4 separate regions of the Homo sapiens genome follow, and all the other regions are reported to be linked to region 3. The links are microRNA targets in miRTarBase. Many come from high-throughput screens and were not tested one by one. Region 3 holds a microRNA gene; each other region holds the end of a gene's coding sequence.
Evidence for each region. The annotated mature microRNA hsa-miR-7-1-3p reads CAACAAAUCACAGUCUGCCAUA and lies in region 3 at 1,242-1,263, opposite strand. An mRNA with a match to its seed (bases 2 to 7 or 8) in the 3' UTR can be bound and repressed. Matches are read on the target gene's strand: a 7mer-m8 pairs with bases 2 to 8, a 7mer-A1 pairs with bases 2 to 7 and ends in A, and an 8mer does both.

Region 1: the mRNA of NLGN4X is a reported target of hsa-miR-7-1-3p. Seed matches in the 3' UTR shown: 7mer-m8 at 429-435.
Region 2: miRTarBase lists SPATA13 as a target of hsa-miR-7-1-3p. Seed matches in the 3' UTR shown: 7mer-A1 at 3,164-3,170.
Region 4: the mRNA of TBC1D1 is a reported target of hsa-miR-7-1-3p. The part of its 3' UTR that is shown has no 7-base or 8-base seed match.

Annotation. Positions count from the first base shown.
Region 1 is chrX:5,890,078-5,893,232 of GRCh38, forward strand. NLGN4X (neuroligin 4 X-linked) reads right to left here. Exons shown (of 6, transcript NM_181332.3): 6 at 1-3,155. The coding sequence ends at 2,740. Among named protein-coding and RNA genes, the nearest start is that of LINC03070, 170 kb to the left of the region's middle.
Region 2 is chr13:24,302,130-24,305,314 of GRCh38, forward strand. It overlaps SPATA13 (spermatogenesis associated 13), which reads left to right. Exons shown (of 13, transcript NM_001166271.3): 13 at 469-3,185. The coding sequence ends at 644. Among named protein-coding and RNA genes, the nearest start is that of C1QTNF9, 5.9 kb to the right of the region's middle.
Region 3 is chr9:83,968,530-83,971,529 of GRCh38, forward strand. MIR7-1 (microRNA 7-1) reads right to left here and starts at 1,328; the gene lies at 1,219-1,328. It overlaps HNRNPK (heterogeneous nuclear ribonucleoprotein K), which reads right to left. Exons shown (of 17, transcript NM_031263.4): 13 at 2,744-2,827; 14 at 2,368-2,383; 15 at 2,208-2,290; 16 at 1,633-1,802; 17 at 1-911. The coding sequence ends at 878.
Region 4 is chr4:38,136,622-38,139,806 of GRCh38, reverse strand. TBC1D1 (TBC1 domain family member 1) reads right to left here. Exons shown (of 22, transcript NM_001396959.1): 22 at 634-2,672. The coding sequence ends at 2,472. Among named protein-coding and RNA genes, the nearest start is that of PTTG2, 180 kb to the right of the region's middle.

The DNA.
Region 1 (3,155 bases), not on the chromosome of region 3:
TGCTGAAAAGTTTATACATATGTGTCCGGCCATATATATCTTCTATCATTACTTAAGGCAAAATAAAAAACAAAACTGCAAAATAATAACCCAAGGAACCATTAAACCCTGCGTGCCTTTGAAGATCAAGAGTAAAAGCCTAGGACAGGATTTTTTTTTTTCTTACTTTTTTCTCATTTTTTTTCTTTTTTCTCTTTTTTATAGATAGCAAGTATATTTTTTCTCATAGAACTCTATGAAGATTCTATAACTTCTTTCCATGTAGAAATAAGATATCATTTAAGATGTACTAAAATCACTTTTGATCATAATCCCCTGTAAAAGCTAAAGTTATTCACTTAACAGGAACTCTGTTTTTCCTTATTCAAATGTCACAAGCCTGACGCGTTACTGTACATATTGCTAGCAGGAGACAACTGGAAATACTAAACAAATACTGGAATTCACATTACAGACAGACGAAACCAACATGGATGCCACACATAACTTCCTTTGTAGTTTCACAGAGAGCCTATTTGTGGTTGCTCAGGTGGGGTCATACATTGCTTGCAGAAATGGCCTGATCATAGCTCTATGAAACAATGAATTCGGAATGAAATCTTACCATGACACCTCTCTGTAGGAAAGAAATGTTGCTTCACGTGTGCTAAGTTGAGATAATAATATTTCACATATTTATATACAGAGAATCACTCTCAAATTTAACCCAAGATAAGCAATAGGATTTGGGGGTGACTTGTACGCATTTCTAAAAACACTTTTCTTTTTTCTAGAGGTCACTCTCAAACACTGATATATCACTATAGTTTGAGTGTAGGGATTCAGTAATCAAAGGTTGTTATTGCAAAAGAGCCAGGCAGCTGGACAATTTTTATGGGGAATGTCCACTTTAGCGGAGAGATTTAAGACTGGATTTCTAGAATAACCCACAATGGAGCCGAGGAACATGATCTTCAAATATCTTTGGCTACTGTTTCTTGGTAATGCAATAATTTTTCAAAAAAGTATCCATTGCTACTATGTTTCCTTCCACCTTATAACACTCAAAACTTTCCTGAAAAATGAGAAGAGAAATGAAAAAATGACAAGCTGTTGGAAAGACAAATCTCTGATCCCTAGGTCACCAATTTAAAATGGGTGAATAATTTCCATTCAATGTCTTCTCAGTGAAGTTATCCTAATTTCCCAGAAAACCCATGCAAAGCAGTTTTAATATTCTATCCTTTCTTCCCCCATTCTTCTATAATATTCACCGTTTGGTGACCGGATACACAAATCCACAAAAAGTGATGTTTTCAGACAATCATATGTTTGATCCCATAAATGATATAAAAGATTTTTAAAAACCTGCTTACTGATAAATAAGGGACCGAGTGCTTAAACAAAAAGGAAAGACACATGTCTTCCTTCAATCTGATTAGCTAAGCTGAGCAGGTACTTCATCGGCCAAACCCTCCCGCAGCTGCTAGGGAACACAGAGCCGTATTTACTCCAAGGGGCATAGCCCCACCAAAGGCAAGCTTTCTTCTTTTTTTGGCAGGGCCCTGAAATGGGAAGCAACTCTTCCTAAACATATTCAAAGGGCCAGAGCTACAGAACGGGACTTGTATTTTTGTTTCTCCCTACTGATTCTTTGTGTGTGCATGTCTCTAATTTAACAAGCTGTAAATACACTCCACTTTGGGGACCCATCTCTGTACTGCAATTTCATGAAGGCTAACACGTACAAGTCAAAAGTTTTTCAAAACAGTGGTCTCCTAAGAATGCTCTTGCATGCACCTGTGCAACCTGACGGGGGAAATAGGCCACACAGACCGTCTGGGTCTTCTGTGGGACATCACATCCTCCTACAAATGAGAATCTCATGTAAGAAAATCCCATGTCTTTGTTTACCACAAGTAATTAAGAAGAAAAGCCTCTTTTGTTGGGGAGGAAACAGAGGTGATATGACTAATGTGTGTGTGTGTGTGTATATATATATATATTTATATACGTACAGAGCACAATGAAAAGCACAACCTTGCTAAAAGCTCTTTCAAAGTGAAAACACCAATAAAAGCTTTTTTTCTTGTTTGTCTGTTTGTGGTTTTTGTTTAAACTCACAGCTATATACATTTTTCTTTTTTACAAAGTCTCTTAAATATAGTTCAGGCTGGCAAAACACCTCTTTGCACAGAACCGTACAGATTTCGCTGCACAGTCCATTCTTTTAATAATAAATTTCTACGTTTCCTTCTCTCTGGATTACAGCTCCATGTGCTGGGCAAAATCTCATTGACTCTTTCTTCACTTAAGGAGAGCCATCCATTGTGTGGCACAGAAAGAAATGTTTAAACTTCCATTGTAATTAAAAAATATCAAGTGTCCTTGGCTGAGTTTCAGAAGTGTCAGCTGCTTCCATGACGTTGGAAACACCCGGGGCCTTGAAATGGTGATGTCCTATCACACTAAACATCGATTGGAGTGGTAGAGATCTTAAAGCAGTTATTTTAACAGAAATGTGTACTTCTCACATTTCACAGGGTCAGAAGTTGATCTTGTAATACTGGAAAACACCAACGATAAGGGTCTGCCGGGATGGGATGACTGCCTTTTTGCATTTTTGTCTTAAGTCAGTGGGACAAAAACATTCCTGGTCTGGAGACTTTCTTTCTCTCTCTCTTTCCTTCTCTCTTTCCTTCCCTCTTCTATGTTGCTGAGCGGGTAGGGCAGAGGGATAGGAAGGGAAATAGGGCAAAGCTATACTCTAGTGGTGGAATGTCCGTGGGGTAAATTTGTACTGTTTTGTCCTCCACTGAAGGTGTTAAAAGTGTGCAAAGGCTGCATCCCCGTCAGTGTGTTTGGAATCATGGTGATGGTGTTTGGCGTCATAAGTGGGATGTCATCTGGCGACCGGCGCAGCGTGAGGGTGTAGTCTGGCGGGCAGGTGAGCCTCAGTGTGTCGTGTGCCTGCAGCGACTCACACTCGTGATCGTGTTCCAGCTGCTTCATCTGCAGAGACATGATCTCTTCGTTCTGGATGTGAGCGATATCATTTGTGGTGTTTCTCTGGGGACTGGGGCGCCTGTGAGTCTCATGGCGCCTCTTGTCCTTTTTGTAGTACAGCGCCGCAAAAGCTAAGATGTTGAGGAAGAGGAGCGACGCCCCGACGGCAA
Region 2 (3,185 bases), not on the chromosome of region 3:
TCAGTTTCTTTCCCTGTCAAGTTGTTGTCATAATACCCTCCTTGGAGGCTTTTTGGGAGAGTTCAGTGAGAGAGACTGTGTCACGCTCCACACGGAGTACCTGAACATAACAAGTGTAGCTACTGGACCTTCTTTTTGGTTAACGTGAATTAAGAATTAGCTCTCTACAAAAAAATATAAAAATTAGCTGGGCGTGGTGGCACACACCTGTAGGTCCAGCTACTTAGGAGGCTGAGGTGGGAGGATCGCTTGAGCCTGGGAGGTAGAGATTGCAGTGATCCAAGATCACACCACTGCACTCCAGCCTGGGTGACAGTAAGACCCTGTCTCAAAAAAAAAAAAAAAAAAAAAAAAAAAAAAGAATTAGCTGAGAACTTGGACTTGGAGTCTCAGCATTTTTATTTTTTTCCTTTCTGGTTAACAAGCGACCCTCAGTCCCTGTTCCATCTCTCTCCCCTCCCGAGTCAGGCTACAACAGGTGCCCTGTGGCCCCACCGCACCAGGGCCTGCACCCCATCCACCAGCGCCACATCACTATGCCCACAAGCGTCCCCCAGCAGCAGGTCTTTGGCCTGGCGGAACCCAAGAGGAAGTCCTCGCTCTTCTGGCACACCTTCAACAGGCTCACCCCCTTCCGGAAATGAAAACAGGAGGCTGTGCTTCCATGGAGCTGGGTGTCAAGAGAAGAACTGTCTTTGTTTCTTGTGTGCTTCAATCCAGGGAAAGTTTCTTGGACCCAGTGATAAAAACTTCCTTTTAGGGATCAATGAAGGAGAGAAGGTCTTGGAATCACCTTCAGTCTTTGGAGACCCAGCTGCCTTTGTGGAAGGGAGGAGACGGTCATGACACAAAGCTTTATCCTACACAGAAACACCCGTGACCCACTATGAGATGGCCCAGATGTGGGACCCGGTACCATGCTCTAAAGCGAGTGATTAGGCAGCAGCTGAAGCCACCCCTGCTGATGATGAGCAAGTGCCTGCTGCAGGTCCAAACACAGCATCCAGGGCTTTGCAGTTCCTAAGGAGTGATGAGGTTAGAGGATCACTTCTGCATTTGATTTTCAAGGATGCCGTCAAGACGGGGTTGACACAATGCTGCACGTGTCTGGTCACACTTAGAAATTGAGCTCTTACTCTCTTCTGTAATACTGGGGGACCTACAGCTGCCGTGGGGCTGACCACGGTGTTCCCTGGCATCGTCTGTGTCCACACAGATGCTAACTGGTAGTGCAAATGTCATCCTGCAAGGTTCCTCTTCCTGCAAGCAAAGTGGAGAGAAAGAAGATGCATCTGTCACCTTCATCAGGGTCCTCAGTGCAGAGCAACTTACGCATCCTCAAGAATCCACTGCTTTTCAGGCAAGGAGGGAGAAATCCTGCTGCACACTGGCTTTGTCCCGGAGTCGGATTCCCTCCTGCCTGCACGCCTTCAGTAACTCCGAGCAGAAATCACATCTTGCCCACATGCTGTAACCTAAGAAACTGCTATGCAAGGCTGGGTGCTGTGGCTCATGCCTGTAATCCCAGCACTTTGGGAGGCCAAGGCAGGTGGATCACCTGAGGTCAGGAGTTCGAGACAAGCGTGGCCAATATGGCAAAGCCCAGTCTCTACTAATAATACAAAAATTAGCTGGGCATGGTGGCGCATGCCTGTAATCCCAGCTACTGGGAAGGCTGAGGTAGGAGAATCTTTTGAATCTGGGAAGCGGAGGTTGCAGTGAGCTGAGATCGCACCACTGCACTCCAGCCTGGGAGATACAGCGAGACTGTCTCCAAAAACAAAAACAAAAACAAAAAACATTCAAACAACTGTTTGCAATATAAAAAGCTCATTTACTGTAATATTTATGATACAGTGAATATGAAAATGCACTGGTCAGAAGGCACTCTCAAAGAGCCGCACTGCTCCTGACATCGTCCTTAGCAATGAAGTCACAAAGACAGCCAAAGCAGTCCTGCTTCTTGGAAATCAGAAGCTGCCTTTATCACATATAAAGCCAAACAGGGCATAACCATGTCACGTGAGCATGTCATCAGGCTTCTGAGGACTTGTTCTTTATAAAAAAAGACCTTCACAAAATATCTTGGCTTAGAGATAGCAGTCTTTATTAACAAAGGCCACCTAGGCTGACACCTGCAGATAATCATCTCCTTTTCTTTGTCTATGTTGTACATTTTCATGATATAACTTTTAACTATGTCTAGAGAAGGCAGGCTCTGCAAGAGAGGTGCCCTTTCAACCCGCTCAGTGCCCTGGACAGGAGATGCTGTGTTAAACTGTTAATGGATATCTATATGAGAAGCTCATTTTTGTATGCTATCCCTGCAGTTTTTTTTTTTCTAACAGGCCCATGTTTGAGAATAAACAAGTCTGTGATGTCAGAGACAAAGGTGTATTCTTCAGTCTGCAGGTGTGTGGCACCTCCCTTCTCCCCTGCAGCCCCCCACATCCAGAGCCGTTCCTGAGAGTGACATCATGCATCAAGAAAACATAACCTTGGTCCTCAGGTGAACCCTTGGAACATTCTGTGACCGCCTGATGTCCATTCTGAGCCACCTTGGCACACATGCTTACAGGCAGCACTGCTAAGGGTTCAGGTGCCCCATGGCTGACAGCCCGAGTTGCTTCTGTGGACCATCATGCCGCTCGGCACGTCCTGAGACAGAAGTTGCTGCAGGAAGGAGCTTCTGGAGAGGTCCTGTGGCATGTGTGGGGGTGTGTGTGTGTATGTTTCCTTCTTGAACAGACATTCCAACTTTAGATGTGTTTATAGAACTGACCTTTTTACTAACAAAATACAATGATATATGTTGGAAACTACTTAATATGCTTTTCCTGCACACCTTAGCAATAACTGTAGGGGTCTCTGCTAGAGTTGTTTGTATGTACAGCAATTTTGAACAAATTGTTTTAAATGTAATATAAGAGAATTAGTTTAAGGAAGTAAAGAGAATCATTTGCTTGTGTTACATTTTCAGTGAGGATTCAGTTTAAGAGTCATTCTTAGGACTTCCATTTCCTAATATTTATTCATGGGTAATGAAGAAATGGTTTGCATTTTGTGGCCAGTCCTAATTTATTTTCCAGCTGAGCCCTAACTTCCGGCTCCCACCTACCTCCACGGACTTCCTAACAGAGACTTATGAATACCAGGATGTGTTTTTGTTAAGTCAGGTTCAATTC
Region 3 (3,000 bases):
CTGCCAATCAGAATTCTGGTATATACTCATACCATTACTCAACTTGTAGTACTGCTCCCCACCTTAGTTCTTCACAACTAACATAGAAAATTGTTGAAAAGTAGGGGCAAGCATTTGCAAAAACAAACAAAAAATCCCCAGCTTATTATAAGCATGAATATGTATGATGGAATTTCTTCCCAGCAATAGACTTCCAAACCATCAAGAAATCACCAGAACTAAGTTTGCCAAGTTATTTTGCCTATGTCCAACAAGAGATGCACTTATATGTCCAACAGAGGAGCTGAAAATTAAACTTAGTGTTTAGTTTGGGGGTGGGTTGGGAAATTCAGCCACCATTTTAAAATGACTGTCTTAAAAAAAAAATGACCACCAAAAATAGGTTCACTAAATTTATTTTAAAAATCATAAAACGTTTCTTACAAAAGAGCATTACATTCTGCACACTGCTCTGAACAGATGCCAGGGACATGTGGACTATTGTTACTTTTCCTCCCTGTCCCACCCCCCAAATGTTACAGTGACCACAAAGCAAGGTGTTCACAATAATTACATGGGGGGAATTTTTTAAACCACCAACAATAACGAAAAATAAAATCCACTCACTCTGCTGCTGTTTCAAAATTTCAATGTTAGTTTTTGCACGCCCTTCCCCCCCCCAACCCTGTTTGTAAGGAACTAAAACATTACATCTGGTGAACAGCAAAGATTTCACTACACCTCAAATGCAGAACACCTATGAAGCAGAGGAATGTTGGCTTTTTAAACAGAAGCAGATAAAAAAAAAAAGATGCAGGACTCCTTCAGTTCTTCACTAGTCTTAGAAAAACTTTCCAGAATACTGCTTCACACTATAAAAAAGAAAAAATATCTTGCATTAGAATCCTTCAACATCTGCATACTGCTTCACACTATAAAAGAAAAGAAAAAAAAGTGCGAATTAGAATTTTTGCTCGTAACATCTTAATCAACATCAAGACAATTTCAATGCTAAATTAAAATGATAAACACGTCCATTACAATTAGAAGAGTTCAAAAACCATTAGCAATTACAAATTAAAGCAATGTTAAGTGTCAAGAAAAATGATGAGTAGTAAATCGGACATTAGTAGAACAGAATTAAGAAAACGGAATTGAAAGTTGTTAATATTTGGTAGAAAAGACAAAGAATGCTAGTAAGGTGTGAAATGCTGCATTTTACAGCACCAATCATTTGTCCTGTAGAGGCATGGCCTGTGCCATATGGCAGACTGTGATTTGTTGTCGATTTAGTTATCTAAAAACAACAAAATCACTAGTCTTCCACACAGAACTAGGCCAACATCCAATGAATCTTCTATATTTTCTACAGGCTCTGTACAATTTTTAACAAGTGGTTTTGGCAGCAGTTTTCACCAGAGAAATGAGAAGTTTGCTTGGTTAAGGCTTCTTCCAGCAAGATTAGTATTGAATGTCTTCATTTTTAGTAAGAAAGCAGAAGAAAAATTAAGGCAAACTATTAGAATGTTTAGAAGTTAGGTCCCCAAAAGGTTGAGACACCATGGCTTCTAAAAGAAAAAAATCAATTGAGAAGAAAAGCTTTTTAAAGGTTTTAGTATGTATAAGCTAACACAAAGCTAAACTTAAACTGACCTGTTCTGCAGCAAATACTGTGCATTCTGTATCTGGTCCTGTGTTCCTGTAATGGTAATGATCCGATCTTCGGATCCTTCTAAAGGCTCATCAATTTTGATCGAAGCTCCCGACTCATGACGGATTTGTTTAATCCGCTGACCACCTTTGCCAATAATAGATCCAGCCAACTGAAAAGATTTTTTAAAAGTATGTGTTTACGATATACTTTTAACATTTACTACCTGTATTTTCAAGGAGCATGAAGTTATTAATTTTATTCATTCAGAATCTTAACTGATGATCTAACGCTCCCTAAACCTGTCAAGGTTTGAGTTATAATGTATTTATGTCACACTTACTAATGTTTCCCTTAGTTAGTTAAGGGCTCAAAACCTACTTAACTACTTTTATTAATAGCACTGATCACTTGACAAGACTCAAACAGCTGAAAACCCAGCTCACTAAAGCCCATTAACATAACCTCAATCCTAAATGTGTATTTTTGTTAAAACCTTCTGAATTAAAAAATATACAGAAAGGAGGAATAATCATAAAAGTGATAAAATGTTCCTGGTAGTATTAAAGATACTTACATCTTTGGGAATAGTTACTTGTGTAGTAATAATAGGTCCACCAAGATCACCATATGAGCCACGACCCCCTGCATAGGAATAATCTGATTTAAATAATGAGCAGTAAGTTCATTTAAAAAGTATGAAATTAATGTTTGACTTCACAAAGGAGAGAACTTACCATATCCGGAGCCACCCTAAAAACAGAAAGAAAAAAATAGAAAATTACTTTGCCGTTGTAATTACTACCGGTACTTTAAAAAAATTCATTTAATAAAATGGAGTCTTGCTATGTTGCCCAGGCTGGTCTCAAACTCTCGGGCTCAAGTGATCCTCCTGCCTCAGACTCTTTTGTAGTTGGGATTATGAGTGAGCACCACTGCACCCAGCTTCACTATTCAAGTATTTTAATCTCATAAAATCCCTCTTCAGGAAACCAAAGTCCTCCTGTATCCTATTTTCAGTAAGTATCCTCAGGGGAATAAAAAACTTACTGGAGAGCAGGTAAGCATCTTAAATTATCACTGATATACACACGAACAACTATGATACTCAACCTGTGGTTCATAAGCCATCTGCCATTCTGATGGGCTCCATGTATCTATTGCAGAGTCCCAAGTTTCATCAGCACTGAAACCAACCTGTTAGAGATAAAAACATTAACATGAACCCGCATTGTATTTTGTTATAGAGCTGTTTTTAATATGCCTAATTTGCATGTTACATTAAAACAAAAGAGGGTACATATATAGGCAGCAATTTTGTAATCGAGGGGAACAAAGCTCAATAAAGTCGTAATCCTCCAGCAGCAAAT
Region 4 (3,185 bases), not on the chromosome of region 3:
CTCTTCTCCTGTTTACCAAACCAGACACACAAACCTCCAAATGGACATTGTTGTTCTATCTACAGGCCACCCCTGAGAGGGAGCCGAACCGAGTGTGCAAGCTGAAGAGAGTCCCATCCTGTTCCAGGTAGTAGTACACTTCTTGAGGCCTCATAATGTCTTAAGAGACATAAATGGCATCTAAAGATTGACACCACCAAGTGCACAAATGAGTGTTGGGGGAAATATAACCCAAAACATGGCTTAAAAATTTGGCTCTGAGAATCCTCACACAGTTGCCTCTCCGCTCCTTGCCTAGTCAGTCACAGGCTGAGACTGTCCAACCTACATCCACAGGCTCATGTCAACAGTCCTTTCTGCCCAACCCAATCTCGTAACAGGACTCACTGCCACATACAATGATGGAGCTGGTCTCATCAGTGCTAAACTCACACCCTGTGTAGAGGTGTTACAACTTACGTAATAAACACTCAGATAACAACACTGGATGCAGACACCAATATCTCAAATAATCTCACTGATGGTTGGGTCATGACCACACGTAGGCCACAGGTGTTCATAAGGCATTCCTTTACTCCTGGGCTGAAAAGCAAAAATCCAAAGTTAAAAAAAAAAAAAAAACCACCATAAAAATGTGAGCATGAATTATTTCTTGTTTTATTGCTTTCTTGTTTCTTTCTTGATGCAGAGTCAATGTTTTTGAGTAACAGTAATAAGATGCCCAAAATCCAACAGTAAACATTCAAATAGTAAGATCTGATGCAGAACAAAGTCCTCAAATGTTAACTCCTATAAGTTACATCTAGCGGAACCACGAGGGATAAAGGCTGAACTCATCATCTTGGTTTATGATGGAAACCGCTATCCTCTGACCCAGGGAACAGGAGGAAGTCTCGAATGCCAGCCACCTGTTTAGGCACTGGTGGCAGCACTGTGGTCTCCTCGTGAAATGGCCGGGGAGACTCACAGTGAGTCTAAGTATGGCAATCTCTCCTTTTACCCCAGGATTAAGAGATGCCCCCCGCAACTGAGAGAATCAAAAGAAACTCCTATGGAATAGAAGACGTGGTTACAGTGATAAAGATCAGAAATGATTGTGTTGTCAAGGAAGTGACCTGTGACTGCACAGAACCCCATCTTTGTGAGAAAGCAACCCACTCTTAAGTGCACATCAGAGAGGCTTTACACAGTGACTGGCTGCAAGCAGGACAACCGTGAGCAGCATTTTGCTTGTTGAAGGCACAGGTCCTCGTCATCCTGAGAGAGGAGAGTCACTGTGTGCGACCTCTGAAAAACTGTCAGCTGTCATAAATCTGACTGCAGTTTCAGCCTGATCTTTTTTTTTTGAAAGTCCCAGACTCTTGGGGCACCCCTGAATATCTTGATGTGCCTACTCCTTCTGCAAGAAGTCAGATTTCCAAGGGATGGAGACTCAAAGGAACATGATTGCATTACATCACACAACAGGCAAAAATAAATACATGACTCTATAGTATGGGTATGAAACTACCACAAAGAAATATCTCAGACCCCACAACTGCAGCTCACATGCTAGCAATACCTGGTAGGGTCTAAAAGGTGTCAGCTGTCCCATAAAGCATTTACCTACTATGACTTTGATCAACTGTACTTATGGGATAAGCAAAAATGTATGAAAACACTCTATTTTTTTTTTAAAGACAAACTTCCTTAAATACCAAAGAGAGAGATCCATTTCACTTGACAGTGATCAGGATATCCAAATTAAATAAATCATTTTATTTAATTTGATGATCTTCAAATTCAATAAAGTGATCTTAAACATTCAAATAGTAAAATCTGATGTAGAACAAAGTCCTCAAATGTTAACTCCTTTAAGTTACATCTAGTGGAACCACGAGGGATAAAGGCTGAACTCATCATCTTGGTTTATGATGGAAACCGCTATCCTCTGAGCCAGGGATCAATGACCCAAGATCACTGATCTTCCCAATGATCATCTTAGGTTTCCATAACAAGAATGGGCGAGAGCCAACTGCACCTTGCCAGGGACGCTGAGGGTGTAGTCGCCACACAAACCCTCTCGGAAGAACGATGGACCCACGCCTTTGCCTGAGGCATGATCTCGAGCTCTTCCAGCTTTTGAAATTCCACCGTATTGTGAATGCTCTTTACAAACACAGTGACACTCAAAAAGGAACCAACAAGAAAACATAAGTTGCATTTATTCACGTCCACGCCATCTAAAGCTACTGTGTACAGTAATCAGGACTGGAGAAGGGACGATTTAGTATCTAAAAACAACAAAAAAAACACTGGGACATGCCCCCTGAATTGCAAGTTGGAGTTCGTAAGAATCTACTTGCTGGCAAGCCGGTTTCCTCCCTGAGAAGCACACTTCCCGCTTCCTTCTCTCCTTCCAGCGTCTTCTGTCCCTCTCAGTTAAGGCCTGGACAGTGTGGGATGGTGTTGCAATCTCTCCTGCAGAGCTGTCAGTCGCCCGTGGGCTCGGGCTGCGTGCACTCAGGCTCCCGGTCGCTGGGCTCTGCGCTCCGCCGCCGCAGCTCCTCCACCGTCTGCAGCAGGGCCGACCGCTCCAGTTCTAAGGTAAGCATGGCCTGCTTCAGCTTGCTCTCACTGCTCAGGAGCTTCTCAATGGTGGCCTCAAGGCTTTGGATCCTACCATTTGCCACCTGGAGAATAAAAGAAGAAATGAGAATACAATTGCCAGTGCTAACACAGGTGGGATCCAGTGCCCACACGCTGTCCAGCCTTGGGAGCACTCTGGAGCCGAGTTTCAGCAGGGATGAGTCTACAGTTTATCATCAGTTCTGGCCACACAGGAAGGCAACTCGCACCCCTTGCAGGTCGGTGGCCAGGCCCTTAAAAGCACCCTGAGAGCCCCCAGCATTTTCTTCTCCTGCTATGGCTGCTGTGGAAGCCGATGCTGAGATGGTGGATCACAACACAGAGGGAACCCAAACCCCCAGGCACCACCACCAGAGGGACAGCTTGGATAGGGCCAAAGAATGCTTCAGCAACACAAAGCTGAAGTGGGCGTCAGTGACACAAAGACTTCCGTTGTGCCAAGCCTCGGAGACTTGTAAGTTTGTTACTGCAGCAGAGCCTGGCCTGTTTTGATGAGCACATATACTTAAACGCACAAATCGATTTCGGGCTGACAAAAACTCAAAACAGTTTCCTCC